2 separate regions of the Homo sapiens genome follow, and region 2 is linked to region 1. The links come from fine-mapping of genetic effects on gene expression. A gene starts in region 1. The other region holds a variant in brackets. All regions are shown on one strand. Distances are from middle to middle.

Region 1 (2,907 bases):
CGCTAGCCATTATCCAACCGCATTTACCAGACGCTCAGTCTTGAGGGAGGAGGGTAACGCAGTAGGGGATGCGGAGTATTGGTGTCATCCTACAGGTTAAGGACAAACATGCCCACTACAAGGACAGGGATACATCACCAACTTCAATTCAGCCCAGGGTTCATGTAGTAAGGGGTGGGTGATTCACTCCTGTGGGGGAGGCAGGGCGGGGGCGGTTGGGGGAGGCGGTTAGGAAAAAGGAAAATCGTGGAAAGTCCCAGAGGAAGTGGTAGTCAGTTCCCGATGCATGGCCATAATGTACATTGGCCATAAGGTACACTCAGCGCCTCTGTGTCGCTGCTCCCCCTCAACCTTTTACTCACCCACTCCTCCCAACACGCGCCTCACCCGTGCCTCCATGCACAATCCTGAGCCTCGGCATCCCCGCGAGGTGCAGGTTCCAGCTTTGCCCACCACCCCACCACCTACCTACATGGACACGTGTGGTTGGAATGCCTCCCGGGGCTAGACGGCCACCCCTCTTGGGCTGCGAGCTGCTGCCCATCTCTCCACCCACCCGTCCTTATTGTGTCATTTGCCCGGTCTGATGGCAGCCCCAAAGCCGCTCATTTGAGTGGGCTAGAATGGAGAAGAGAGGAAAAGGGAGGCACACATTTCATTCACTAGGACCCAAGATGACCTGCCGCCTCTCTCCTGCCCTTCTCGGAGCCCCCCACCCTCCCTTAGCCCCAGTGGGGCTGGAGGCACGAACAGACAAGGCAAGGGGAGCGCAGTCCGTCAAGGTCCACAGCTGCACACAAAGCCCTTCACCTTCTCCTTGCCTTCCAAGCTCCTCCCTGGGCTTGGTTTCTCCGAGGGTCTCTGATGCCCCCTTCGGTGGTCGGCGGGACGGTCCTATTCCCTCTTGCATCGCTGTCTCCTCCCTCAAGTCTCAGCCTCCTCCTCCCCGCCCCTCGCCACATACCCCTGAGGGAGCTCAGTCCTGGCTTTGGGGGCGCGAGAGCACCCCATAAGCCCGGGGCCCTGCGCCCCAGGGGAGCGGACAACGGTCCACTTTACGAGGCACAACTTCGCCCAGCCGTTCCGCCACCGCACTCGAACACACACCCCATCCCCGCAGCGGTCGGGTCTGGTCCCGATCAGCCCCATCCCCGGGAGGCGGTTGAGCCCAGCCACAGCCACGCTCCTACCTGCGAGGCGGCTGGCGCGGCGAGGAGCTAGGGCACCGAGCGCCCCGGCCCGAGCCCCGCACCGCAGCGCGTCTGCCCTTGTGCGGCGGCGGCGGCTGCAGCGGCCGCTGGGTGGCCCGCTGGCTGGCTGGTTGGCTGGCTGGCTGGCTGGCTGGCTGGCTGGCTCGCTGGCTGGCTGCCCGGCTGACTCCTCACTGGGGCTTCCTGTAGGGCTGGACAAAGGACATTTCCTGGGAGGAGCGGGAGAATGTTCCCAGCATGCCTCGATTTGTAGTTCCCGGGGACTTCCTGCCACCGCAGCAGCGGGCGCCCTGGAGGTAGCTCGGGCCAGGCTAGGACTCCGGGACAGGAGGAAAGGCGCTCGCTGCTTCTCTAAGCGCTGTGGGGAAGGGAGCGGCCGGCGGGTCTTGCCCCACGCCCCGCCCCGCGGCGCTCAAGGAGCCCGCTGTCCCGGAGCACGCGAGATCCCAGCGCTGCACTCCGAGCTCGCGGCACCGGTTGCGGGCAGCCGGTGGGACGCTGCCGCTGAGCTGTCCCATGGTTCGGGAGGGCTCTGCGGTGGGAGAGGCCTTTTCTTTAAAAACTGGGAAGTTTGTGGTGGGTTCGCTTTTTAAAAATTAATCTAAAAACACAAAATCTATCTTTTAAAATAGATTTTCTTTTTGTCTTTTACGCCGTTGACATCCTGCTGGGGGCCGATTAAAGAACTTGATTGCTCACCAGGAATTCAGGTTCCTTAAGATCTTGGCGCTTCATCTTTAAAACCATACAGAGCTGATTGTTTCCAGATCCCGACCCGGTGACATTCCTCCCTCATTGTTGACCTTGTCCCAAACATCTTTTCAAGAAAAGCAATTAAATTGAGATTGAAAATAAATTACGTAAATTAAATATTAGACGTGAAAACCTGTGTGCTGCTGAATTAGGAAAGTGCTGGACTTTCTGCGTATCTTTCCTTCATTAACCTTTAGGATTCAGCTTCTTGGTCCCATAAAACAGATGTGCTGGCCACTGTATATTGAGTGTGTGTATTTCGGGAGTGGAAGGGTGAGGAGAAGAGGACATTGGCTACAAGAGAGGAACTCTACTTCCAGCCTAGCAAGAGTCTATGATGCCCTGCACATGTTTTTGTCTATTTCTGGGACCACAGACTCAGGACCCTTAGAAAATCAAGGAAGGACCACATAGAGACTAAATGACTAAAAGCTATATTCTCTCCTGGAGCATGAGCAGAAAGTAATAAACTGAACTAGGAAAGGACAAGTTCTAGGATGCTCTAGAATGTGTTTGAAAAGTAATCAGATAGAAAAGTCTCTGGGAGGCCGGGCGCGGTGGCTCACGCCTGTAATCCCAGCACTTTGGGAGGCCGAGGCGGGCGTACTACGAGGTCAGGAGATGGAGACCATCCTGGCTAATACGGTGAAACCCCGTCTCTACTAAAAAAAAAAACACCAAAAATTAGCCGGGCGTGGTGGCGGGCACCTGTAGTCCCAGCTACTCGGGAGGCTGAGGCAGGAGACTGGAATGAACCTGGGAGGCAGACCTTGCAGTGAGCTGAGATCATGTCAGTGCACTCCAGCCTGGGCAACAAAGTGAGACTCCGTCTCAAAAAAAAAAAAGAAAGAAAGAAAGAAAAGTCTCTGGGCTTGGTGGCTCATGCCTGTAATCACAGCACTTTGGGAGGCCGAAGTGGGAGGGTCACTTGAGCCCAGGAGTT
Region 2 (2,907 bases), 29 kb before region 1:
TTTTCCAAGGTTACACACTGTCCCTTCCCTCACCCAACAAAGCCAGCTAAAGTGGGCATTGCCTGATTTGCAGCAGTGGTGGGGACTCTGACTTATAGTTGCAGAGTCCTTGGCAGAGAATCTGCTTAATGCTGAGCCTTTGCTGAATGTATCATCTTGCCCTAGCATAACATGTGAAGCCTTGACATGAAGTTCCCCCCGGTCCACCTCCCATCCCTTGCAGCCCCAGGGGCCAAATCCTTAAAGTCAGACTTATAGTTGGCAAAATAATTCGCCCAAGCAGGTTGGGCAGGCAGAAAACAAAATAGGCCTTCACCTTCACCTTTAAATGGTGTTGGAATGTGTAAGCATCTCTACCTCTCTCATATCTGTCTCTCTAGCATTGAGCACTATGCCTGGCACTTGCCCACTCAGCTGAGGGGTGAACTTCTCAGGGTCTCTGCTCTTAATGAGTCACAGCCTTGGGGCCTGGGGAAGGCCAGTCATACACAGATGGTATCAGAACACCCAGGCAGAACCACTCCCTACCTCAGCCCTTGATGCTTTCAGAAAAGCATCTCAGTGGAGTGTCTTCAGTGAATAAAAAGAATGCATGGAACTGCTTCCAGTGAATCCCTGGTCTCCAGGAACTGGCGTCTGGCAGTTCTTTACTCAGGTTGGAAATCCTTCAAATACGTGTGTGGGAATGCCAATTTAAACATTGCACGTACACTGACACCTTTTTCAACCTCCTTAAAAACACAGGGCAACATGGTATATGGAACACCTTGCCACCCACCTCATTGGCTTCCAAAGCTGAGCATTCCCAGCTGCTGGAATGAGACAGGGCGCCAGCTGGATGCAGACAGCATTGTGAACAGTGCCCTGGATCCCACAGGAGCAGCAAGAAACTGAAACCCATTGGAATGTGCTTTGGGTTAGCAGAGATGACCTTGAAACCAGTCTAGCAGCAGAAAACTACAATCTACAGGGTACTTGCAGCTGTGATAGGGAGACAGAGGAGCAAGCACTAGGCAATTCATGCTGGAGGCTGGCCAGGTGTGCTCCTCCCCTCCCACCAGGGGCAGAGAGGATGGAAATTATGTGATTGCCAAGGGCAGCTGAGAAAAGGAGTCATGCCTGGGGTTTTGCTTTGTTGTGAGCTGAGTTGGGGGAATAAAGATCTGAGAGGAGCGGAGGAAGGCTGACTATGAGTGGTGAAGACGGTGAAGGCCAGCAGCAGCCTTCCACACCTATTCCATTGTCATCTGATGGACAGCCAAGACAAGCACTTTTCCTGGCTCTTACTTATGAT[A/G]TTGTCTTCACTATTTGGAGCAGTTGTGTGACAGGAGGCCTACCAGGAGCAGACAAAGCCTGATGCACCTTGCACTGCCCTTTGCCTCCATACCCCCCAGCGGAGGAGAGGATTTGAGCCTTATGTATTATTATACTTACTGTAATTCCCAAGAAAGAATGGGGGGTCTCTAATTGGTCCTACAGAGTTCTCAACCCTGTTTGCTCATTAAAATCACCTGGGGAGTTTCTATAAAACTACAGGAACTTAGGCCTCACTCCAATTAATTGCTCTCTTCATTTAAAAGGCAAACAATCCAAAAAGCTCTCCAAGGTTAAAAAAATCTGTAGCTTAAACTAATCAAACCTCAAGAATTCCAGGTTGACCAGGTACAGTTTTTCTAATTGGAATGTGGGCAGAGGCCCACTCACGGCAAATTCAGGGTGAAGTAGCACAGATAATATGCAAATGTGCCTGTATGGGTATGACTGTATTCTAATGCAACTTTATGTACAAAAATATGCAGGGCAGATTTAGTAGTTTGTCAACCCTTGTTCTACAAGAACATAGCTTCCATAGATAGAGCTGAGTGACATTTAATGTGTGGCAAAGAAGAATGACATGGTAAAAGACTGATATGGATTTAATGACAAATATTCCATATTGGTTGCTGAACACCAGAATGCTGTCCAAGGAACCATCGTTAAATAAAACAACCTGAAAATAAGGCAAATCTCACGTATACAAGCACACTCACACGAAACCTGTTACTTTTAGGATCATTAAATTATTCACTATTTTAACAAACAGCTGTAAAATAACATTACAGTGAAGAAAAATGTGCACAAACTTCAGAAACACAGTTTAGATTGTCTATGAACACAGGTCCTTAATTTGTATTTTTTCACATATGTACAGTCTCTTGATTGTAAAGAGACCACATGGCTCAAGGGGTTAACTTCTCATTTTCTCCTTCCAACTCGGAGCTCAAGATTTAATCAAAACCATTTAGCCTATTTAAATTGCTCCAGGTTTTGCTTAGTAAAGGGCAGCAGAGGAAGACTGCTCTTCATCAAATTCTCCAGGAAACAAATAATACACTTGCTTCCACCATCATTAATGAGTTGGTGGAAAAAGTCCTCAGATTAACGTTTTCAAGGGTGAACCGCAGTTAGCAGGGTTTGCCGAAGAAATATTATTCTAAAACTAGATAGAAGAAACAAACAACCTCCTGAATGCATTTAACCTCACTTAATGCAGGTAAGTTCCCTGAAGAATTGTAAGAAAAAATGGAATCACATTTTAAATGCACCAATAGAGTCGGGTGTTGGTAGTTGGATTGTTTTCTTCTGCTAAGAATGTGCTCATAGAAGGGATATCAACGTAGCAGCTGACTTTTTTATCCATGGTAATAGAAATAATGAGAGAGGTAAATGAAGTCCAAAGATTCCCACTGCCACTAAACTATTTTACATTAGCTTCACTCTCCACTCCCTGTTGAACCCATTCTCTAAAGTTGCTGATATGTAGTATATTTGATGCAGACGAGACCAGGCATAGCAATGGCAGCAAAAAAGCAAAAAAAAAGCGGATAATCAATCCATGAATAATCAAAAGTTGGATGAGATTTCATA

What was found. PIP is the estimated chance that this variant, and not a neighbour inherited with it, causes the effect.
Region 2: its variant is fine-mapped to the expression of ZNF697 in whole blood (INTERVAL, PIP 0.96).

What each region holds. Positions count from the first base shown.
Region 1 is chr1:119,646,881-119,649,787 of GRCh38, forward strand. ZNF697 (zinc finger protein 697) reads right to left here and starts at 1,386. Exons shown (of 3, transcript NM_001080470.2): 1 at 811-1,386. It overlaps LOC124904389 (a long non-coding RNA gene), which reads left to right and starts at 1,436. Exons shown (of 2, transcript XR_007066506.1): 1 at 1,436-1,507; 2 at 1,844-2,096. RefSeq lists silencers at 803-966, 1,264-1,323 and enhancers at 1,382-2,222, 1,394-1,463.
Region 2 is chr1:119,617,524-119,620,430 of GRCh38, forward strand. It overlaps ZNF697 (zinc finger protein 697), which reads right to left. Exons shown (of 3, transcript NM_001080470.2): 3 at 1,854-2,907. Among named protein-coding and RNA genes, the nearest start is that of LINC00622, 20 kb to the left of the region's middle. RefSeq lists a silencer at 1-109. The variant A/G (reference allele first, on the strand shown) is at 1,295.